2 separate regions of the Homo sapiens genome follow, and region 1 is linked to region 2. Evidence: fine-mapped expression QTL. A gene starts in region 2. The other region holds a variant in brackets. All regions are shown on one strand. Distances are between the middles of the regions.

Region 1 (8,000 bases), 340 kb after region 2:
TGTAACTACTTAACATCCAAGGAAGTATCATAATTGTGTGGGGGGCTTGTTAAACAGATTACTAAGCCCCACCACCAGAGTTTGATTCAGGATGTCAGAGGTGGGCCTAAGAATGTGCATTTCTTTTTGCTTTTTGAGACCGAGTTTCGCTCTCGTTGCCCAGGCTGGAGTGCAGTGGCGCGATCTCGGCTCACTGCAACCTCCGTCTCCCAGGTTCAAGCGATTCTCCTGCCTCAGCCTCCTGAGTAGCTGGGATTACAGGCATGTACCACCACGCCTGGCTAATTTTGTATTTTGAGTAGAGACGGGGTTTCACCATGTTGGCCAGGCTGGTCTCGAACTCCTGACCTCAGATGATCCGCCTGCCTCGGCCTCCCAAAGTGCTGGGATTACAGGCATGAGCCACTGCGCCCAGCCAAGAATGTACACTTCTAACAAGTTCCCAGGTGATGCTGACACTTTGCTGTTGGTCCAGCACTTTGAGAACCACCCTTAACAATAAAAAGCTCATAGGCAGCTGGGCGCAGTGGTCCAGGCCTGTAATCCCAAAACTTTGGGAGGTGGAGGCGGCAGGTCACTTGAGGTCAAGAGTTTGAGACCAGCCTGGTCTCACGGTGAAACCCCATCTCTACTAAAAACACAAAAATTAGCTGGGCATGGTGGCATGCACCTGTAATCCCAGCTACTCAGGAGGCTGAGACAGGAGAATCGCTTGAACCTGGGAGGCAGAAGTTGCAGTGAGCCAAGATCATGCCATTGCACTCTAGCCTGGGCAACAAAAGCAAAACTCCGTCTCAAAAAAAAAAAAAAAAAAAAAAAATTACAAAAATTAGCCAAGTGTGGTAGTGGATGCCCATAATCCCAGCTACTCGGGAGGCTGAGGCATAAGAATCCCTTGAACTCAGGAGGCAGAGGTTGCAGTGGGCCGAGATCGTACCACTGCACTCCAGCCTGGGTGACAGAGCGAGACTCCATCTCAAAAAAGAAAAAGAAGCTCATAGGCTTAAAAGTCTTAAAGCTTTACCCAATTACTGCCATTAGAAATCTTTGGGTAGATGGCCAGGTGTGGTGGCTCACACCTGTAATCCCAGCACTTTGGGAGGCCAAAGCAAGAGGATTGCCTGACGTCAGGAGTTCGAGACCAGCTTGGCCAACATGGCAAAACCCCATCTCTGTTAAAAACACAAAAATTAGCTGGGCATGGTGATGGGCACCTGTAATACCAGCGACTCGAGACTTAAGCAGGAGAATCACTTGAACCTAGGAGGCGGAGGTTGCAATGAGCTGAGATCGCACTACTGCACTCCAGCCTGTGCAACAGAGTGAGACTCTTGTCTCAAAAAAAAAAAAAAAAAAAAAAAAAGAAAGAAAAAAGAAAACAACTTTGGGTGGGAACAGTCACTTGTAAAAGTAGAGAAGGAAAAAGGTAACTTAAGTCAAAAAACAAATCAAGAATAGAGGGAAAGGGCTGGGCATGGTGGCTCACGCCTGTAATCCCAGTACTTTGGGAGGCTGAGGTGGGCAGATCACGTGAGGTCAGGAGTTCTAGACCAGCCTGGCCAACATGGTGAAACCCCGTCTCTACTAAAAATACAAAAATTAGCCAGGCTTGGTGGCAGGTGCCTGTAATCCCAGCTAGTCAGGGGGCTGAGGCAGGAGAATTGCTTGAACCTGGGAGGCAGAGGTTACAGTGAGCCAACATCGCACCATTGCATTCTAGCCTAGGGGACAAGAATGAGACTTGTCTCAAAAAAAAAAAAAAAAAAGAATAGAGGAAAAGGCCAGGTGTGGTGGCTCACGCCTGAAATCCTAGCACTCTGGGAGGCCAAAGTGGGCAGATCACCTGAGGTCACGGGTTCAAGACCCTCCTGGCCAACATGGCAAAACCCTGTCTCTACTAAAAATACAAAAATTAGCTGGGCATGGTGGTGTATGCCTGTAATCCCAGCTACTTGGGAGGCTGAAACAGGAGAACTGCTTGAACCCAGGAGGCGGAAGTTGCAGTAAGCTGAGATCATGCCACTGTACTCCAACCTGGGTGACAGAGTGAGACTCTTATCTCAAAAAAAAAAAAAAAGAGGGAAAATAGAGAAGAGGGAAAGACAGACTAACGTATCACAAGTAAACATGACATGAAAGAAAACTGATAAACGTAGTGGCAAGTAGTAGATGTTTAGGTGACTCAAATAAGGATCAGATGTATGCAATTACAATTATTGGGGTTCCCTCAGCATTATGTAATGACTCATCCTTCAATCATCACATAGCACGAAATTTACATCAGTGTAGTTTTCTGTTTTCAGAACCTAGAATTCCACAATAAGATTTTTTTCTCAGGTGACAGTAATATCCAAGGTACTTCAACAGAAAAAAATATTTGGAAACAAAAATAAAACAGAAAAAAATTATTTGGATATATAACAAGAAGGCCACTTGAGGATCTCAGTGGAAATGAGACCTTAAAGGTCAGTCTTGATACCCTGAAGTTTTTGTTGTTGCTGTTGTTTTGAGGCGGGTATCATTCTGACACCCAGGCTATAGCATAGCATTGTGATCACAGCTCAATGCAGCCTCAACCTCCCGGGCTAAAGCGATCCTCCCACCTCAGCCTCCTTAGTTACTGGGACTATAGGCATGCACCACCATAACCAGCCTATTTTTTTTTTTTTTTTTTGGTAGAGATGGAGTCTCCCTATGTTACCCAGGCTGACCTCAAACTCCTGGGCTAAAGCAATCCTCTTGTCTTGGCCTCCCAAAGTGCTGCAATTACAGGTATGCCCCACCACACCTGCCTAATTTAAAATTTTTTTTGCAGAGACGGAGTCTCACTATGTTGTCCAGGCTGGTATCTAATTCCTGGGCACAAGTGATCCCTCGACACTGGCCTCCCAAAGTGTTGGGACTACAAGTTTGAGCTACCATGCCCAGCAGATACTCTAAAGTTTTTACTAACAAAAACAAACCTGGGATCTGGATCTTCATTATGTCTCCTTAATCACTTTAGAGACTACAAGTGATTTTTACAGTAGCCAGTAAACATAATCCTTCAATAAATCTTCCTGTCAATTTGAGGAAACCACATTTAGTTAGGCCTTCACTAAATCCTGGCAGCATACCTCAACTATATGT[G/A]TCACACACATACAGGATGGAGTTCCTAGAGATCTCATGAATGTGATCATCCAAGTGACAGCTGAAACAAATGCAAGGTACTTCAAAAACGCAATTTTTTTTTCTTTAAAGAATTCACTGAATTGGTACTGAGAATAAAACACAGGGTAGACTTCCTTCCTTTTCCCTATCAATCTAAGCTCTGTATAAATGCCCATCACTCTTTGCAGGTGGTGGATTAAAGTTTAAATTTGTGGGGCAAGATAAACACATGAATGAAAGACAAGTACTACTTCAGAAGAAGTAAATGCAATTTATTTATTTATTTATTTATTGGTTTTTTTTGAGCCAGAGTATCACTGTTTCAGCCAGGCTGTAGTGCAGTGATGTGATCATAATTCATTTGCAGCCTAGACTTCCTGCACTCAAGCGATTCTCCTGCCTCAGCCTTCCAACTAGCTGGGACTACAGGTGCGCATCACCATGCCCAGCTAATTTTTTTATTTTTTATTTTTGGCAGAGACAGGGTCTTATATGTTGCCCAAACTGTTACTGAACTCTTGGCCTCAAGCGATTCTCCAGCCTTCATCTCCCAAAGGGCTGGATTACAGATGTGAGCCACTGTGCCCAGCCAGTAAACGCAATTTATAATGTAGACACAAGTAGTCTATAATAGATTTTTAAGTTACTTTTCAAACCATATGCTAACTTACAACTTTTGCTAGGCTCTAAAACTATGAATATGCCCCTTTCTCATCAAGGAGCAATAATACATTTTAAAATGGTGGGCTTGGCCAGGCGTGGTGGTTCACACCTGTAACCTCAGCACTTCAGGAGGCCGAGACAGGTGGATTGCTTTAGCTCAGGAGTTTGAGACCAGCCTGGGCAACATGGCGGAATCCCGTCTACAAAAAATACAAAAATTAGCTGGGTGTGGTGGTGTGTGCCTGTAGTCTCAGCTACCTGGGAGGCTGAGGTGGGAGGAAGGCTTGAGCCCAGGAGGCAGAGGTTGTAGTGAGCCAAGATTGTGCCACTGCAATCCAGCCTAGGCGACAAAGTCAGACCCTGTCTCAAAAAAGAAAAGCAAATGGTGAGCAGGACGCAGTGGCTCACACCTGGGAGGTGGCAAGGTGGGAGGATCCTTCAAGCCTAGGAATTCAAGACCAGCATGGCCAACATGACGAAACCCTCTCTCCTAAAAATACAAAAATTAGCCGGGCATGGTGGTGTGTGCCTGTAATCCCAGCTACTCGGGAGGCTGAAGCAGGAGAATTGCTTGAACCCAGGAGGTGGAAGTTTCAGTAAGCCAAGATCATGCCACTGCACTCCAACCTGGGCGACAGAGTGAGACTCCATCTCCAAAAAAAAAAAAAAAGAAGAATAGAGGGAAAATAGAGAAGACAGACAGACTAACCTATCACAAGTAAACATGACATGAAAGAAAACTGATAAATGTAGGGGCAAGTAGTAGATAGTTAGGTGTAGTAGGTGTTTAGGTTTGAGACCAGCCCAGACAATATATATGAGACCCTGTCTCTACCAAAAATTTAAAAATTAGCTTGTCGTGGTGGCGTACACCTGTAGTCCCAGCTACTCCAGAGGCTGAAGTGGGAGGATCGTCTGAGCCTGGGAGGTTGAGACTGCAGTGAGCCATGACTGTGCCCTGCACTACAGCCAGGGTGACAGAGCAAGACATTGTCTCACAAAAAAGAAAAGAAAATAACCTTTGGTAATCAGAACACATCTATAAAAGGGCTATAAAATAAATGAGATTTATCATTTAAACTAAGATTATTTCTTTCCAACAACTTGAGTAATTTTAGGCCGTAACTTAATATTTTAAAAATACTGGGGTCGGCTGGGCGCAGTGGCTCACGCCTGTAATCCCAACACTTTGGGAGGCTGAGGAGGGCGAATCACAAGGTCAGGAGTTTGAGACCAGCCTGGCCAACATGGTGAAACCCCGTGTCTACTAAAGATACAAAAAAATTAGCCGGGCGTGGTGGCACATGCCTGTAATCCCAGCTACTTGGGAGGCAGAGGCAGGAGAACTGCTTGAACCCGGGAGGTGGAAGTTGTAGTGAGCCGAGATCACCCCATTGCACTCCAGCCCTAGGCGACAGAGCAAGACTCTGTCTCGGAAAAAAAAATACCGGGGTCATATTAAATTACATTACTCATTTTTAGCACTGCATTCACACAGTAATACTGACCAAACATATCAGTAGAATAAAATAACATACATTAGATCCATGCCGGCCAAGAACTTCCCATTCACCACTGGTAATTGCTATCTCCTCTTTGATAGGACACTTGAAATCACCTGAAGATAAATATAATTATAATTCAGTACATTATACCAGACTATAAGCAAATGAAACAATTAAGAACAGTACTCTAAGCTCTTTTTTCCAAAAAGTTATGTTTGGGGTAATAAAAATGTTTTGGAACTAGACAGAGATGATGGTTGCACAGCATTGTGAATGTACTAAATGCCACTGCATTGTTTGTTTATTTTTATTTTTCATTTTTTTGTAGACAGTCTCGCTCTGTTGCTGAGGCTGGAGTGCAGCGGCATGATCACAGCTCACTGCAGCCTTGACCACTTAGGCTCAAGCTTTCCTCCCACCTCAGCCTCCTGAGTAGCTAGAACTAGACACCACTAAACCCAGCAAATTATTATTTTGGTAGCAATGAGGTCTCACTATATTGCCCACGCTGGTCTTGAACTGCTGGCCTAAAGCCCCCTGGCCTTGGCCTCTCAAAGTGCTGGGATTACAGGCATGGGCCTGAATTGTTTATTTTTAAATGGTTAACTTAACGTTTTATGAATTTCACTTCAATAAAAAAAGTCTACAGTTAAAAAAAATCCAAGTTATGAGTCTTTACAATACTCTGGAATAATAATGGAATGATCTATTTAGGTAATGCAAAAACAGCAAAAGAGATTTTTTGGCAAAGCCAGAGGAAAACTCAAAAGCACCTGCATTCTTGAACCTTTGGTTAGACAAAGAAGTCTAATGGATTGACAAAGCATTTCTTTTCGTTGTTTTTTTTTCATAACTTGTTTCTGTTGATTTCTCTTTTTCTTTTTGTAAAACTTTCCCAAGACATTTTCAGATTTAAAAATAAATAAAGTCAGTGTTAAAGGTGTTGGTCAGCCTTCTTACTTGTACCCTTCTACCTCTGACACTGGGGTAAAGGAGGAAGTCCAGGGCAATGCAGTGATATTTCTGCCAGGATACTCCCCCTCCCCTAAACTCAGTAGTTAGTTGAGAGTATGACATTTACAGAGAGAGGCTAGAGAGACCCAAATACCTCTATTCCACCCCAGTGGTAGGTGGAAGTTGGGTCAGCTGCTGCCCCGAGCCAGCTTTATCTTCTGAGTGTGGGCTTTGGAGGAACAGGAGAACTGGCTCTTGGCCACTGTGAGGGGTACAGCTTTGCCACTCAAATATACCTTATTATGGCATTCAGGGAGCCAGGGTCCAGAGCTGCAGGGCTGGGGTCCCTGTCTCACTCCCACATAGGCCATCACATGACCTGCCATAAAGGCATTAAAACCAGCCCGGTGCAATCCATCCCCAGGCACTGAATTAGGACTGGCTTGACTCCCTGGCACTTCTGAGGTAGCCATATCAGCTATTTCAACAAGGCATTTCTTCTAGAAATGCAACAAACTACTTTAAAACTCACAAAAGAAAATGTTTAATACAATTGTTCTTCATTTGCCAAAAAATAACCCAGGTAAGTGTTTACCATAGCAAATGTCAACATGCCCCATTTGTTTTGTTTTTGTTTTTTTCCTGTTCTGCTCTGTCGCCCAGGCTACAGTGCAGCGGCACCATCACAGCTCACTGCAGCCTTTACCTCCCCAGACTCAGGTGATCCTCCCACCTCAGCCTCCCAAGTAGCTGGGACTACAGGCTCATGCCACCACACTTGGTTAATTTTTTTTTGTCTTTTTTGTAGAGATGGGGTTTTGCCATGTTGCCTAGGCTAGTCTCAACTCCTGGACTCAAACAATCTGCCTGCCTCAGCCTCCCAAAGTGTTGGGATTACAGGCGTGGGCCACCTCACCCAGCACCCATTTGTTTTTATGAGCTTCTGTCTTGATGAGGCTCTCTCAGCGGCCTAAGGAACAGCTTAAAAAGTGAAAATCATTTCTCTTTTCCTCACTGCTTATATCTATTGCTGTGGGGAGTGACAGCTGATGACAGGCCTAGGTGGTGAGGCTGTATTAGTGTCTTTCCTAGGGTTCCACGTAAGTTTAAAAAAATATTTTAAACTCGAAGAGCACAAAAAAATTAAAAAATCAATTTAGTACTTTAAATACTATAGACAGAAATTAAAATAAAATTTAATTTTTTTAAAACATAAAATTATATGTTAACATATAGATAACAAATACTAACTGTTTTACATTACAGCTCTTAAGAAAGCAAAGAGGAGGGAGAAGGAAATGAAGTAGATATGAAGGTAAAGGAGGATGACTTGGAGCAAGAAAGACTAAGAGGGCTATTATTAAAAAAGCAGAATATAACAACTATCATCCGAACGTAGACAAATTAAAACCCTGTGCACTGTTAGTGGGAATGTAAAATGGGGTAGCAGTAGCCACTACCGTTGGTGTTCCAATGGTGTAGCTCCTATGGAAAACAGTATGGTAGCCCCTCAAAAAACTGAAAATAGAATTACCATATGATCCAGAAATTCCACTTTTGAGTACATACCCAAAAGAATTGAAAGCAGGGACAGGAACAGATACTTGTACACCCACGTCCACAGCAGCATTATTCACAATAGCCAAAAGGTGGAACCAATCCCAGTGCCCATCAACAGATGAACAGATAAACAAAATGTGGTATATACATACAACGAAACCTTACTCA
Region 2 (17,152 bases):
AATTTAAAAATTAGCCAGGTGTGGTGGTGTGCACCTGTAGTCTCTACTACTCAGGAGGCTGAGGTGGGAGGATCGCTCCTGCCTGGGAGTATAAGGCTGCAGTGAATTATGATTGCACCACTGCACTTCGGCTTGGGCGACAGTGCAAGACCCTGTCTTTTAAAAAAAAAAAAAGCAAAAAAAAAAAGCTATCTTCACTTATTCAGTAGATGAGGCTAGAATCTGGAAGACATTTCATTGTTTTTCCCTTTAGTTCCTGTACTCTGAGTTCCTTAAATTATTTATTTATATGTACATGGGTATATACACATATACCTTTATTCATTATCTCTCAATTCTTTGACTTGAGAATTATTCACTAATAATTCTGAATTACTCAATTATTCACTATCACTTGAATTACTCATTACCTCTCAATTCTCCTACACACTGACGTCACTCAGCTTATGCTTCCATACTACCCGTGCCCAATAGCCTTACCCATCTCTCTGCCCTTCTCTCTCTCTCCTGGATGCTCCAAAACTTTCTCTGCTCTACTGGCACTGATCTTTGCCATCATTTCACTTAAAAACTTTCAGCGGGGCCAGGCGTGGTGGCTCACGCCTGTAATCCCAGCACTTTGGGAGGCCGAGGCAGGTGGATCATGAGGTCAGGAGATCGAGACCATCCTGGCTAACAAGGTGAAACCCCGTCTCTACTAAAAATACAAAAAATTAGCCGGGCGCGGTGGTGGGCGCCTGTAGTCCCAGCTACTCGGGAGGCTGAGGCAGGAGAATGGCGTGAACCCGGGAAGCGGAGCTTGCAGTGAGCCGAGATTGCGCCACTGCAGTCCGCAGTCCGGCCTGGGCGACAGAGCGAGACTCCGTCTCAAAAAAAAAAAAAAAAAAAAACTTTCAGCGGTTCCCCAAAGCTTTAAGTATAAGTGAGAACTCTAGCATAGCCCATAAGACAATTTGCAACGTGGTCCTGCTTAAACATCCAGCCTCATCATTCAGCACTTAGTTGGAGGTGCACACATCTTGAAGAGAGAAGTTAGCTGCTCATTTTAAATATGCATGCAACCAGCTGCTACTTACCAAATCATTTTACATTCAAGTCACTTAATGCCACAAAGTCTGTTTATTTCTATAGATAATGATTTTCCTAAAATTTCCTCCTCCTTTTGGACCAAAGTGAGGAAGATTAATATTGGGAAATGCTGGTAAATTCACTTGGCAGAAGTTTACTGAGCACTCACCTCATAGAGGATGTGAGGTGTGGGAATATTAAATAGCTCTCAGGTTTTGCCTTCTAGTGAAAAAGAGATGGGTAGACAAAGCAGATGCTAACTTCCCTCTGATTTACAAATGCCCTGAGAGTACCACAATGGAGGCATCTGTTTCTGAGGTCTGGATGTGAATTAGCCGCTCTGAAGGCTAGTATGCAAAAGCCAATCACTTAGCTAGCAAACGAGCCTGGGTGAATACAAAATGGTCATATTCCAACACAACTTTCTTAAGGGTCTAAAAGAATCCCAGTTTTCATTTACATTTTAAACAACACATGGGAAATCATTTGTTAGAGTGGCATTTGCTAATTTGTACACTCTCAAATATCTCTGGTGAATACCAAAGGCCTACAATCTACTAAATAAATCAGCATGTGGTCCAAAGCAGGTGCAAGTGAGAAGCAACAGGAGGTTACCTCAGCCCAGATCAGGGAAGGATGAAGGATGCTGCATGTGTATTTGGTTTTGAATAGTGAGATCTTAAAATGGCAAAGATGGGACTGAGGGCCCTCCAGATGAACAGAATGACAACAGCTAAGATCCAGACAGGCAAATGGAAAGCACAATTGGGTAACTTCTAGAAAGCCAGCATGGTTGAAACAAACTTCGGTGGAGAAGCTTGAACTGCCTGGCTATAGTGTCTGGTGCTTCCTCCAGAGGCAAGAAGAGACCAGTGACATGAAGGGAAGGTGGGGAAATCCACACAGTCTGCAATCCCTGCCCTGTCCAACCATTCATACCTCTTCAAATAGAAATAATTCAGGTTTGAAATGTATCTGAAGAAGCATGCCAAGTTTTCAACACTTTCTGGAGCAACAAGTAAGGGTGAAAAGCTTTCACTCTGGCACAAGGCAAAGGTGACTAGCCATGACAAGCCCACTCAGAAGAGTGTGGCCAGAAATGCCCAGGGTAGGAATGATAAGTCAAGGGGAAGACAGTGCAGTGGGTTCCCACACTTGCCTCTCTTTTCAATCTGGGCTACCACAGGCTAAACATCTTCTGAGGCTTCCTGCTTCAGAAGTTCTGACCTACTTGCTGACAAGCCCAGTTACCCGACAAGGTGAAAATCATGAAGTTTCAAGTATTTTTCCCTCAATAATATTTGGGGTGGGAGGAGCTAGAGTAAAGAAGGGGAAGGGAACAAGGAAAGAAATGCAAAGCCACAGTTACCTTTCCTCGCTGCAGCCTCTTTCCTCAGTTTCCTCAATTTCTCCAAAGCCCGTAGAATGTCCACCATTCTTTTGGTATCTGCTTGTTTTTTCCTCACTTCAGATAGTACGCCATCAGCGGCTGCTTTGAGTTCCTGCTCCTGGAAGAGAAACAAAGCCCATGAGACCTCGTATTAGGAACAAACTTACAGCAGAGAATAGCTGCCCAGTGGTTAGATTTTAAAGGATCAGACAGTCTCCAGGTTAAGAGAGACTCTATTGAATCTCCATCCCAATTTCTTAGGCCTTGCACAACTCCCCTCTAGCTAAGAGGTTATCCCCCTCCACTGATGGTACAACCTTCATCTTAAAGGAGAACCTCTCCTCTCTGTATCTTCCACATAGCACTGGTTTTGTTTCTTCCTCAGTGTTTCTCAAAGTGTAGTGCAGAGATCAGGTGTCCAACTTACCTTGTTAAGCTGAGACTTGTTAAAAATGCAGATTCCCTAGACCTGAAGATTCAGATTCCCAGGAAGGATAAGGAATGTGGCTGGAAAGGCTGAGACCTCTACAAAGGTCTCTTAGTGACAACCTATGTTTGTGTTCCACTGCTCTAAAGTCCCAAGGATCTCTTCCACATGACAGCCTTTCAAATACCAAAGATTGCTGTCCTACTCTTGACTTAGTTCACATATAGACTAAATAACCCCAGTTCCTCAAGCCACTCCTCATAAGACTCTGTCACCAATATCCTCACCATGGAAGCTGGGCATAATGGCATGTGTCCCTAGCTATTCCTACTCAGGAGGCTAAGGCGAGAGGATCACTTTAAGACCAGGAGTTCAAACCTACAGGCTATGACAAACCCGCTGCACTCCAGCCTGGGCAACAGAGTGAAACTTTGTATTTTTTTTTTTTTTTTTTTTTTTTTTGAGACAGGGTCTCATTCTGTTGCCCAGGCTGGAGTGTAGTGGTGTGATCACAGCATCACCATGCCCAGTTAATTGTGTTTTTTGTAGAGACGAGGTTTCTCCATGTTGCCCAGGCTGGTCTGGAACTCCTGGGCTCAAGTAATCTGCCTGCCTCAGCCTCCCAAAATGCTGGGATTACAGGAGTGAGCCACTTCGCACCCGCCCCCAACCCTCTTTTTTTTTTTTTTTTTTTTTTTGAGATGGAGTCTCGCTGTTGTCCAGGCTGGAGGGCAATGGCGCGATCTCGGCTTACTGCAACCTCCGCCTCCTGGGTTCAAGCGATTCCCTGCTTCAGCCTCCCAATTAGCTGGGTTTACAGGCTCCTGCCACCATGCCCAGCTAATTTTTTGTATTTTTAGTAGGGACAGGGTTTCACCACGTTGGCCAGGCTGGTCCCGAACTCCTGACCTCAGGTGATCCGCCCGCCTTGGCCTCTCAAAGTGTTGGGATTACAGGCATGACCACGGCGCCCAGCCCCAACCCTGTCTCCTTAAAACAATAAAATAAATAAAATAAAAAGTTCACCATGGGTGGTGGAGAGAATCCTCTTGCCTAAAGTGCTCTCCCCCATCTGTCAAATAAGTGCCTGTAATTCCACCACTACAGCTACAGCCAACACCAAGCTGTTTCACTTCTCCATTTGGATTACTCTGTTTCCCTGGAACTGCACCTATTACCTTCACCTGGGTGACTTTTCCTTTAAGACTCAGCTTATAGCCAGGAGTGGTGGTGTGCACCTGTAATCCCAGCTACTCTGGAGGCTAAGGCAGGAGAATCGCTTGAACCTGGGAGGCAGAGGTTGCAGCGAGCCAAGACGGCATCACTGCACTTCAGTCCGGGCAACAGTGCGAGACTCTGTCTCAGAAAAAAAAAAAAAGACTCAGCTTACGTGTCATTGTATCATTTGGGAAGCATTCCCTCAGTAAATCAGATGTTCCTTCTTTGGGCTTTTACAGCACCTATAGTTGAATTCCTAACACACACCACGCTATACTGACATGATCTCCCACAGATCTCTAAGCCAGGGGTCAACAAACCCCAGGCCACGGATGGTAACCAGTCCATGGCCTGTTAGGAACCAGATCACACAGCAAAAGATGAGGCAGGCGAGCAAGTGAAGCTTCATCTCCATTTACAGCCACTCCCCCATTGCTTGCATTACCACCTGAGCTCCGCCTCCTGTCAGATCAGCAACAGCAGCATTACATTCTCATAGGAGCACAAAGAAGTGAACTGCGCATGGAAGGGATCTAGGTTGTGGGCTCCTTATGAGAATCTAAAGCCTGATGATTTGTCACTGTCTCCTATCACCCCCAGATGGGACTGTCTAGTTGCAGGAAAACAATCTCAGGGCTCTCACTGTTTCCACATTATGGTGAGTTGTATAATTATTTCATTATGTATTATAATGTAATAATAATAGAAATAATGAGGAAGAGGAAAGGGAACCCCAGAGGCAATCAAAGGTAATGAAAATGCCTTAGACGGCCAGGTGCAGTGGCTCACGCCTGTAATCCCAGCACTTTGGCAGGCTGAGGCGGGTGGATCACCTGAGGTCAGGAGTTCGAGACCAGTCTGACCAACATGGAGAAACCCTGTCTCTACTAAAAATACAAAATTAGCTGGGGTGTAGTGGTGCATGCCTGTAATCCCTGCTACTCGGGAGGCTGAGGCAGGAGAATCGCTTGAACCCGGGAGGTGGAGGTTGTGGTGAACCAAGATCATGCCATTGCACTCCAGCCTGGGCAACAAGAGCGAAACTCCATCTCAAAAAAAGAAAGAAAGAAAATGCCTTAGAAAACCATCTGAACAATTTCCAGTTTTACCCTGGCCCTGCTTAAAGAGTCTGAGATCAATACGCTTTGGAATTAGACAACTTGGGATCAAATATGGGAAACTGCCACAAACTCGTTGTGTGACTGTTGGCAAGTTAACCTCTCTATGCAACTTCCTAACCTGTAAAATTAGCATAATACTTCCTACTTCTCAAGGCTGTTATAAAGATTCAAAATCTGGTATATGTAATGACCTTAGCACACCTCTCTCTATATATACACAGATACATACATATATATACACACATACACATACATACATATATATACACATACATATATGTATGTGTATATATATGTATGTATGTGTATATATATATATATATATAGTAAATGCTCCGAAACACCATTGCTGAACCTGGGGATACATGGTTTAAAACTTGTAAACAAAAGAATCCTAGGGAAATCACTATTGCCCCATCAGCTAATTAGAGTATATATATTCCTTGAGGTAGGGTCCCCAAGTTCTCTATTTTTTTTTTTTTTGAGACGGAGTCTTGCTCTGTCGCCCAGGCTGGAATGCAGTGGTGCGATCTCGGCTCACTGCAACCTCCGCCTCCAGAGTAGCTGGGATTACAGGCGCCCGCCACCACGCATGGCTAATTTTTGTATTTTTAGTAGAGACGGGGTTTCACCATCTTGGCCAGGCTGGTCTTGAACTCCTGACCTCGTGATCCACCCGCCTCCGCCTCCCAAAGTGCTGGGATTACAGGCGTGGGCCACCGCGCCCGGCCTGTATTTTGTATTCTTAAAACCACCTAGGGCAGTACAAGACACAAGGAACTAGACACTTACTGGTTTTGAGAGTAAGTGGACAATGTTGGAGCAGGATAGGGGAGACCTGTCATTCGTGCAGTGCCACCGTGTAATCCTATACTTTGTGTTTACAGGATTTTACAGTGCACCTGGAACTTTTGTGTACCACACATCATTAACACAAAATTAACATGGTGGTATGAGCTGGGAAGGTTAGCTATCGCTTCATTTTGCGCGTAAAACAGAGGCTTAGCCCTGGGAAATGGAAGTTTAAAGCCTCCTGCTGCTCCAGGTTCCAACCACCACCACTCCTACCCCCATGAGCGGCCGCTGCTCTCACCCGCTTCTTCTCCTCCACCTCCTGCACACACTTCACCCTCCAGCGGTCAATCTCCTGCTCGCGTTCCACTGCCCGCGCGGCCTCTGCCTCCCGCTCGGCCTCGCGTTCCCGGGCCCTCTCGCGAAGCCGCAGCCGGCGGCGCCGGACCCTCTCCAGCCTCCTCCGCGCCTCGCCCACATAGGCAGCCTGGGTCAACGGCTGTAGCCGCTCGGCCAGTTCCGCGCGCAGCGGCGCGGTCTGGGAGTACAGCAGGACCCAGGCCGCGCCGTCGGCTTCGGCCTCGCGCAGGGCCTGGCTCAGGCCGCGCAGCCGCCGCACCAGGCGCAGAGCCCGGAGCAATCGCGCGCGCACTTCGCCAAGGCTGGGCCCGGCATGCGTGCGCTGGGGCACCGGACAGCCTGCCCGCCGCGGGGTCCCGAACACCGCCTCCAGCCACTGCCGGTCGCGCAGGCGTTGGAGGGCCGCATCCCCGAGCACGTCGGCCGGCGGCGGCGGCGCCTCAGGCCACCGCGGGCTCCAGGGCGGCCCCGGGCCGGGAGGCGGTGGCCGCGGCCGCTCGCCGGCGTCGGTCCCCGGGAAGGGCCGACACTGGGGCGGCGGAGGAGGCAGCGGCGGTGGTGGCACCGGGTAGAAGGCGCCAGCGCCGCCTCCGCCGCGGGAGGCCTCCGCGGAGGCTCGGGGCTGCAGAGCCAGCGGAGGCTGAAGGAAGGGGGCGGAGGCCCCCGGAAAAGGGCCGGGCCGCTGGGGGAGAGGCGGCGGGAAAGCCGGGGAGGGCAGCGGCGGTGGCGGACAGCCGAAAGGAGCAGGAGGCGGCGGCTGCGGGGGCGGTGGGCCTGGGCGACCCTGGCCGAAGAATGGTGGCAGGGCCATGTTCACGACGGAGATGCTTTGAGAAGTGACAGGAATCTGAGTGGCTCCTCATGAGAACCTTCCGACGGAAGTGACGTCGTTACGACGCGCGACCCCTGTAGACTCGTCCCTCCGGAAGGCTCAGTGCATAAGTGGGCAGTCGTTCAACCTTCTGTCGTTCAGTTCATAAATACCGTTCTTATTGAGCATCCTAGGTGCAGAGCTACCCACTCCGCATACAGTGAGACTGAGAGATACAGAGCTTCTCTTCGTGGAACTATCTGCCTAGTATAACACACTAATCAATTAATCATGGTGAGTATCTTCGAGAAGTTGGAGAAGGTTATCCTAAGAAACTGCGGCTGCAGCTGAGATCTGGAAGATAAATAGTTAAATAGAAAAAGAGAGGGAAGCACAGTGCAGATGAGAACATGTGCAAAGGCCCTAGTAAATAGGAGTGTGACCAACTACCCATTTTCTTAGAAAAATGAATTATTTTTACTTTTCTCCTTTCACCCCACCTCCTATTTAGCTCTTTAGGAATGCAATTATAGGGTGGGTGCTGTGGCTCACGTCTGTAATCCCAGCACTTTGGGAGGCCGAGGCAGGCGAGATCGGCCTGTAGTCCCAGCCATTGGGGAGGCTGAGGTGGGAGGATCACCTGAGCCCTGGGAGGTAAAGACTGCAATGAGCCACGATAACGCCACTGCACTCCACCCTGGGCGACAGAATGACACCTGTCAAAAAAAAAAATCCAATTAACCTTTACCTTCTCTCCACCAGACACTCTCTACACTGTAAGCTTATCTAATTATGTGTTCGCTTATTAGTTCCAAGGACCGAAGCTTAAACCAGGGACCTCTGGAACTTTCCCATACCAGGGGATTGCCTGGGGACAACTGTCAATTTACAACCTAGCTCCCCGCTACCCCCCACCCCCCCTCCGCCTTCGCCCCAGCCTCCATGGCGCCAACCAGATCACTGATGGATACATAGGAGCAAGTCCCATAGACCCAGCACCTCCTTGGTCCCTCCCCACCCCTTGCATGCCATCCAGGTCAACCAAGTCCCGTGCACCCCCCACTTTTTTTGAGACAGAGTCCCTCTGTCACCCAGGCTGGAGTGCAATGACGCACTCTCCACTCACTGCAACCACTGCATCCCAGGTTCCAGTTATTCTTGGTGCCTCAGCCTCCCTAGTCAGTTGCTGGGATTATAGACCCCTGCTGCCACGCCTGGCTAATTTTTGTGTTTTTAGTAGAGAGGGGGTTTCACAATGCTGGCTAGGCTGGTCGTAAACTCCTTACATCAGGTGATCCGTCCACCTTGGCCTCCCAAAGTGCTGGGGTTACAGGTGTGAGCCACCACACCTGGCCACTTTCTTTCTTTTTTTTTTTTTATGAGACAGAGTCTCCCTGTGTCGCCCAGGCTGGAGTGCAGTGGCGTGATCTTGGCTCATTGTAAGCTCTGCCTCCTGGGTTCATGCCATTCTTCTGCCTCAGCCTCCCGAGTAGCTGGGATTACAGGTGCCCACCACCATGCCTGGCTAATTTTTTTGTATTTTTAGTGGAGATGGGGTTTCACCATGTTAGCCAGGATGGTCTCGATCTCCTGACCTCATGATCCGCCTGCCTTGGATCATGTTGGGATTACAGGCGTGAGCCACCGTGCCCGTGGCAGTCACTTTCTTTTTACCATTCTCTTACTTGTTATTTGAATTTGCAAGCTGCAGGGAACTGGACCTGCCTTAGGTTACAGGACTATGTCTAGTGGGAAGCCTGATAGAATGCCAGTTTTGGCCTGTAATCCCAGCACTTTGGGAGGCCGAGGCGGGTGGATTGCCTGAGCTCAGGAGTTCAAGGCCAGCCTGGGCAATATGGTGAATTCCTGTCTCTACTAAAACACAAAAATTAGCCAGGTGTGGTGGTGCGTGCCCGTAATCCCAGCTACTGGGGAGGCTGAGGCAGGAGAATTGCTTTAACCCAGGACGTGGAGGTTGCAGTGAGCCGAGATCACACCACTGAACTCCAGTCTGGGAGACAGAGCGAGACCTTGTCTCCAAAAAAAAAAAAGAATGCGAGTTATGGATGGAGCTCTGAGAGGAGTCTGGTGATCCTGGTGAAGTGAAGTCCTAATGTCTGGGGTCTCATATCTTATGAACAATGGGAAACTATTTTGTTGTTGTTGTTGTTGTTTTGAGACCAAGTCTCACTCTTGTTGCCCAGGCTGGAGTGCAATGGCGCGATCTCGGCTAACCACAACCGCCACCTCCCAGGTTCAAGCAATTCTCCTGCCTCAGACTCCTGAGTAGCTGGGATTACAGGCACACACCACCATGCCCGACTAATTTTGTATTTTTAATAGAGACGTGGTTTCTCCCTGTTGAGGTTGGTCTCGAACTCCTGATCTCAGGTGATCTGCCTGCCTCAGCCTCCCAAAGTGCTGGGATTACAGGCGTGAGCCACTGTGACCAGTGGGAAACTATTGGTTTTAAACAAGAGGTAAAGAGAAGCCTGTGCCACCTGATTAGATTTTTAAAATTAAACTATTTTGAGACAATTGTAGATTCATATGGAATATGAGAAGTAGTAATACAGGGAGATTCTGTGTACCCTTTACCCAGTTTCCCCTAAGGGTAACATCTTGTAAAACTGTAGTACAGTATTGTCAGAGGCATTTGAACCAGAGTGACTCCATCTTGAGTGAGGGCTAGGAAAAGTGAAGCTGGGACTTGCTTGGCTGCATTCCCAGGAAGTTAGGTATTCCTAGCCTCTAGATGTTTATGGTTAAGGGAACAGACTAATAACATTTACTAAACAGACCCGTACTTAGGAGTGTCCTGAGATCCCGATATTTTGAGAATAGAAGCATTCCTAATTTTGCTTTAAAGATAATAATGTTGATTCTTGTAAAATATAGTAATTTAAAAAATTAATCCTTTATCACAAACCCTTGTGGCAGAGCACATCTCCCCATGATCTTTTTTTATCCTATATATAAGCAAGCATTCTACCTAGGGTGGACACGTTTCTCCTCTTACTTTCAGGAACGCCCTACTGTCTATGGAGTAGATATTCTTTCACCACTTTACTTTCTTAATAAACTTGCTTTTGCTTTGCACTGTGGACTTGCCCTGAAATCTTTCTTGCACAAGATCCAAGGACCCTCTGTATTAGTCTGTTTTCATGCTGCTAATAAAGACATACCTGAGACTGGGTAATTTATACAGGAAAAAGGTTTAATGGATTTACAGTTCCACATGGCTAGGGAGGCCTCACAATCATTTGGAATGCTGGGATTACAGGCGTGAGCCAGTGCACCCGGCCCCAGACCTCAATTCTTGACTTTTGCGCACCCGCAGGCTCAACACCATGTGGAAGCTGTGAAGGCTTGGGGCTTGCACCCTCTGAAGCCACAGCCCAAGCTGTACCTTGGCCCCTTTTAGTCACGACTGGAGTGGCTGGGACACAGGGCACCAAGTCCCTAGACTGCACACAGCAGCGGGACCCTGGGCCTGGGTCATGAAACCATTTTTTCCTCCTAGGCCTCTGGGCCTGTGTTGGGAGGGGCTGCCGCAAAGATCTCTGACATGCCCTGGAGACATTTTCCCTATTGTCTTGGAGATTAACATTCAACTCCTCGTTACTTATGCAAATTTCTGCAGCTGGCTTGAATTTCTCCTCCGAAAATGGGATTTTCTTTTCTATGGCATTGTCAGGCTGCACATTTTTTGAACTTTTATGTTCTATTTCCCTTTTAAAACTTGATGCCTTTAACAGCACCCAAGTCACTTATTGAATGCTTTGCTGCTTAAAAATTTCTTCTGCCAGATACCCTAAGTCATCTCTCCTAAGTTCAAAGTTCCACAAATCTCTAAGGCAGAAGCAAAATGCTGCCAGTCTCTTTGCTAAAACATAACAAGAGTCCCCCTTGCACCAGTTCCTAATGAGTTTCTCATCTCCATCTGAGACCACCTCAGCCTGGATTTCATTGTCCATATCATTATCAGCATTTTGGTCAAAGCCGTTCAACAAGTCTCTAGGGAGTTCCAAACTTTCCCACATTTTCCTGTCTTCTGAGCCCTCTAAACTGTTAACCTCTGCCTGTTACCCAGTTTCAAAGTTGCTTCTACATTTTTGGGTATCTTTTAAACAGTGCCCCACTCTACGGGTACCAATTTACTGTATTAGTCTGTTTCCACGCTGCTGATAAAGACATATTCAAGACTGGGCAATTTACAAAAGAAAGTGGTTTAATGGACTTACAGTTCCACATGGCTGAGGAGGCCTCACAATCATGGCGGAAGGCAAGGAGGAGCAAGTCACATCTTACATGGATGGCAGCAGGCAGAAAGAGAGCTTGTGGAGGGAAACTCCTCTTTATAAAACTATCATATCTCATAAGACTTATTCACTACCATGAGAACAGTATGGGGGGAACCACCCCCATGATTCAGTTATTTCCCATTGGGTCCCTCCCACAACACATGGGAATTACGGGAGTACAATTCAAGATGAGATTTGGGTGGGGACACAGAGCCAAATCATATCACCCTCTCTTGGGATCTGGATTGGGACCCCTTTCCAGTAACAATATTGAAACTGTAAACCCCCCAAATTTGAGACAGGTCTCAGTTAATTTAGAAAGTTTATTTTGCTGGCCAGGTGTGGTGGCTGTAATCCCAGCACTTTGGGAGGCTGAAGCAGGTGGATCATGAGGTCAGGAGTTTGAGACCACCCTGGCCAACATGGTGAAACCTCATCTCTACTAAAAAAAAAAAAAAAAAAAAAATACAAAAATTAGCCGGCTGTGGTTGCATACACCTGCAATCCCAGCTACTCAGGAGGCTGAGGCAGGAAAATTGCTTGAACCCGGGAGGTGGATGTTGTAGTGAGCCAAGATCACACCACTGCACTCCAGCCTGGGCAACAGAGCAAGACTCCTCTCAGGGAGGGAAAAAAAAAAAAAAGGTTGAGGACGCACCTGTGACACAGCCTCAGGAAGTCCTGATGACGTGTCCAAGGCGGTCAGGGCACAGCTTGCTTTTATACATTTAGGGAGACATGAGACATCAGTTAGTATTTGTAAGTACATTGGTTCAGTCTGGAAAGGTGGGACAACTTGAAGCAAAGGCAGGAAGACTTGAAGCGGGGAGGGCGCTTCCAGGTCACAGGTGATACACAAATGGTTACATTCTGTTGAATTTCTGATTAGCCTTTCCAAAGGAGGCAAATCAGATGTGCATCTATCTCAGTGAGCAGATAATTGACTTTGAATAGAATGGAGGCAGGTTTGCCCTAAGCAGTTTCCAGCCTGAGTTTTCCTTAGTGATCTTAGGGGCCCAAGATATTTTCCTGTCATAAAACCATCCCTAAAAAAACTTTTTGTGGAGTTTAGGGAAAAGGAGTGGGGCTGGCAGGACTGAGGGAGAGCAAAAAGGAAAGGCAGATAAGCTACAAGTCTGCCTTTCTTCATGGTTCAGGACACATAGCCCTCCTGCGCTCATATCTCACAATCTTCCTGTGCCCAGCTATCACCAGACCCTTGGCTTATAGAAAAATGCAAGTTAGCTAACTGCAACCTTGGTTGCAGTAATCAGTACTGCACAAAGCCCTCTTCAGCACACAGCACAAGCACCATTCTATAAAATCCCCAGCAAGCCTTTGTCTCCTCACAGTTAGCTCCTCTCTTGCTAACCAGCCCCTTGCACTCTTGCAATGTATTTTCATACTTTCTTTCATAAATCTGCCTTTCTTTACCTACAACTGTCTTGGTAAATTCTTCTTACTGCCCACACTGATACTGGCCTCAGATAGTCACTGCTCACCTGCAACGGTTTATAAAATCAATAGGAGGCAAAATAAAATCTAAGTAGGCTTATAGCACAATCAACAACAATCATTAAGTCGGCTTGCCTTCTGTCCCAGTTCCTTGTAGTTGGTCACTACTCTTACTACCCAAGGATAACTAGCTCTTGTCCTCACAAAAGTCTTTTTTATTTTCCTGTTCTATAGATAAAATCTAAGACATTGTTAGATATATTTTTCCATTGAGCATCTCCTTTAGATTCTATATACCAACAAAATTACCATGCCAGCTAGTCCGAAGGACCCAGCAAAAAGCTGACTAATGAAAGAAAAATTTCCACATCCTGATTTTAACCCCTGTATTAGTTCATTTTCTTTTTTCTTTTTTTTTTTTTGAGATGGAATTTCACTCTCGTTGCCCAGGCTGGAGTGCAATGGTGTAGTCTTGGCTCACTGCAACTTCTGCCTCCCAGGTTCAAGCAATTCTCCTGCCTCAGCCTCCCAAGTAGCTGGGATTACATGCGCCCGCCAACCATGTGCGACTAATTTTTCTATTTTTAGTAAAGATGGGGTTTCACCATGTTGGCCAGGCTGGTTGCAAACTCCTGACCTCAGGTGATCACCCACCTCGGCCTCCCAAAGTGCTGGGATTACAGGCACGAACCACTGCCCCTGGCCTATTAGTTCATTTTCACACTGCTATAAAGAACTACTGGAGACTGGGTAACTTATAAAGAGGTTTAATTGACTCACAGTTCTGCATGACTGGGGAGGCCTCAGGAAACTTATAATCATGGCAGAAGGCAAAAGAGAAGCAAGCACCTTCTTCACAAGGTGGCAGGAGAGAGGGTGAGCAAGGAGGGGAACTGCCAAACACTTTTAAACCACCAAATCTCGTGAGAATTCACTCTCAGAACAGCATGCAGGAAACTGCCCCCATGATCCAATCACCTCTTACCAGGTTCCTCTCTTGACATGTGGGGTCTTATAATTCAAGATGAGATTTGGATGGAGACAGAGCAAAACCATATCATCCACTTTACCCAACCAATCGATGACCCCAAATTTTCTAGTCCCTCACCCTCCACAACCCCCTTAAAAATCCTTGCCCAGAACCCTATGAGGAAACAGATTTCAAGCTTGAGAATTCCTCCTGCTTCCTTGTTTGGCATCTTGAGATTATTAAACTCTTCACTACATGAGCAAAGTTGTGTGTTGCAAATTATTTTTAATTTTTAAAAAAGGAAAAAAATTAAACTCTCCAGTACAAACCCAGTTGTCAGTGTATGTCAGATGTCTATTGCTGTGTAGCTGGCATACAAACCTGGCAGTCCTATTACATTATCAAAGTCAGGATATTGACATTGATACAAAACATGTCCATCACTACCAGTATTCCTCATTTGCCCTTTTATAGCCACATTCAGTTCTCTTCCTTAACCCATCTTCTCCTTAGCCATGAATCTATCCTCTACTTTTATAATTTTTATTATTTTATTTTATTTTATTTTATTTTATTTTTGGAGACGGAGCCTTGCTTTGTCACCCAGGTTGGAGTACAGTGGTGTGATCTTGGCTCACTGCAAACTCTGCCTCCTGGGTTCATGCGATTCTCCTGTCTCAGCCTCCTGAGTAGCTGGGATTACAGGCATGCGCCACCACGCCAGGCTAATTTTGTATTTTTAGTAGAGATGGGGTTTTACCGTGTTGATCAGGCTGGTCTCCAAATACTGACCTCAGGTGATCCCCCTGCCTTGGCCTCACAAAATGCTGGGATTACAGGTGTGAGCCACTGCGCCCGGCCCCCGCCTTAGCTTCTAGGGTAGGTAGGACTGCAGGCAGACACCACCATACCCTGCTAATTTTTAAAAATTTTGGTAGAGATGGGGGTCTTGCCCAGGCTGATCTCAAACTCCTGGCCTCAAGCTATTCTCCCACCTTTCCCTCCCAAAGGCCAGGAATATAGGCATGAGCTACTGCACCTGGCCAGGGTTTTTCTTTTGGCATAGCAAAAGTTCTTAATTTTGATGAAGTCCAATTTATCAGTTTTCCCTTTCTGGATTGTGCTTTTGGTGTCAAGTCCAAGAACTCGATGCTTATCCTTAGATCCTGAAGATTTTCTCCTGTGTTTTTTTCTAAGTTTTGTAGGTCTACTTTTTTTTTCTTTTTTGAGACAGTCTTGCTGTGTCTCCCAGGCTGGAGTGCAGTGGTGCGATCTTGACTCACTGCAACCTTCACCTCCCAGGTTCAAGCGATTCTCCTGCCTCAGCCTCCTGAGTAGCTGGGACTTCAGGCACCTGCCACCACACCTGCCTAATTTTTTTTTTTTTTTTTTTTTTTTTTTGAGACAGAGTCTTGCTCTGTCTCCCAGGCTGGAGTGCAGTGGCACAATCTTGGCTCACTGCAACCTCCGCCTCCTGGGTTCAAGCAATTCTCCTGTCTCAGCCTCCTGAGTAGCTGGGACTACAGGCGCCCTCCACCACGCCCGGCTAATTTTTGTATTTTTAGTAGAGACGGGGTTTCACCATATCGGTCAGGCTGGTCTCGAACTCCTGACCACAGGTGATCCGCCCGCCTCGGCCTCCCAAAGTGCTGGGATTAGGCATGAGCCACCACGCCTGGCCTCTAATTTTTGTATTTTTAGTAGAGGTGGGGTTTCACCATGTTGGCCAGGCTGGTCTGCAACTCCTGACCTCAAATGACCCACCCACCTCGGCCTCCCAAAGTGCTGGGATTACACGTATGAGCCACCGCGCCCGGCCACTTTTGTTTTGAGACAGTTTCGCTCTTGTTGTCCAGGCTGGAGTGCAATGGAGCGATCTCTGCTCACTGCAACCTCTGCCTCCCGGGTTCAAGCGATTCTGTCTCAGCCTCCCGAGTAGCTGGGATTACAGGCACATGCCACCATGCCCGGCTAATTTTTGTATTTTTAGTAGAGATGGGGTTTCATCATATTGGTCAGGCTGGTCTCGAGCTCCCGACCTCAGGTGATCCGCCTGCCTCGGCCTCCCAAAGTGCTGGGATTACAGGCATGAACCACCATGCCCGGCCTTTTTAAGACTGGGTCTGGCTCTGTCGCCCAGGCGCCATCTTGGCTTACTGCAGCCTCTGCCTCCCTGACTCAAGAGATTCTCAGGCCTCAGCCTCCCGAGTAGAGTAACTGGGATTACAGGCGTGCACCATCACACCTGGCTAATTTTTGTATTTTTTAGTAGAGACGGGGTTTCACCATGTTGGTCAGGCAGGTCTCGAACTCCTGGCCTCAAGTGATCCACCTGCCTCGGCCTCCCAATGTGCTAGGATTACAGGCACATGCCACCGCACCAGGCCATTTGTAGGTTTACATTGAAGTCTGTCATCCTTTTTTTTTTTTTTTTTTTTTTTTTAAATAAGAGGCCAGGTCTCACTATGTTGCCCAGGCTGGACTTGAATTCCTGGGCTCAAGGGACCTTCTTGCTTCAGCCTCTGAAGCAGGCAGGACTACAGGCATTTGACACCATGCCTGGCTTACGATCCATCTTCAGTTAGGCTCTTTTTTCTTATGGATGTCTAATTGCTGCAACATCACACTTAGATCTTCACTTTTCTGAGCACTGTTACTCTGAGCAAAGTAATTAGATGATGGACATGCCCCATTTCATATTTTTGTCATTTATTAAGCACTTTCTATGACAAGGAGCTGAAGACGGCAAGGTGAGTTGTTTCCTTATCTTCAAGGAGGATGACCTCTTGGGTCATACCAAGAAGAACCAGAGAGCCTGGCCCCACTCCCCAAGGGACCGATCAAACTTCTCAGAAACTTACTGTGATTCTACGTAATATTTATTTATTTATTTATTTACTTATTTATTTTTTTGAGACAGAGTTTCACTCTTGTTGCCCAGGCTGGAATGCAATGGCACAATCTTGGCTTACCGCAGCCTCTGCCTCCTGGGTTCAAGCGATTCTCCTGCCTCAGCCTCCTGAGTAGCTGGGATTACAGGCATGCGCCACCATGCCTGGATAATTTTGTATTTTTAGTAGAGACGGGGTTTCTCCATGTTGGTCAGGCTGGTCTGGAATTCCCGACCTCAAGTGATGCGCCCACCTAGGCCTCCCAAAGTGCTGGGATTACAGGCGTGAGCCGCCACGCCTGGCTCTACATAATATTTAAAGGCTTTTTGTTTGTTTGTGTTTTGT

Which allele goes with the higher level. Alleles are on the strand shown, and positions count from the first base shown. SD is a standard deviation of normalised expression in the study named.
In carriers of allele A in region 1, the expression in tibial artery of the gene that starts at base 7,214 in region 2 tends to be higher than with G alone (large effect, 0.81 SD a copy in GTEx).

What was found. PIP is the estimated chance that this variant, and not a neighbour inherited with it, causes the effect.
Region 1: its variant is the best candidate, but not a certain one, in a credible set for the expression of PDCD7 in tibial artery (GTEx, PIP 0.75).

Annotation. Positions count from the first base shown.
Region 1 is chr15:65,468,858-65,476,857 of GRCh38, forward strand. DPP8 (dipeptidyl peptidase 8) reads right to left here. Exons shown (of 20, transcript NM_130434.5): 12 at 5,352-5,431. Among named protein-coding and RNA genes, the nearest start is that of DPP8, 45 kb to the right of the region's middle. The variant G/A (reference allele first, on the strand shown) is at 3,130.
Region 2 is chr15:65,126,595-65,143,746 of GRCh38, forward strand. It overlaps PDCD7 (programmed cell death 7), which reads right to left and starts at 7,214. Exons shown (of 5, transcript NM_005707.2): 1 at 6,318-7,214; 2 at 2,438-2,576. The coding sequence starts at 7,187. RefSeq lists silencers at 6,440-6,839, 6,900-7,109 and an enhancer at 7,400-7,499.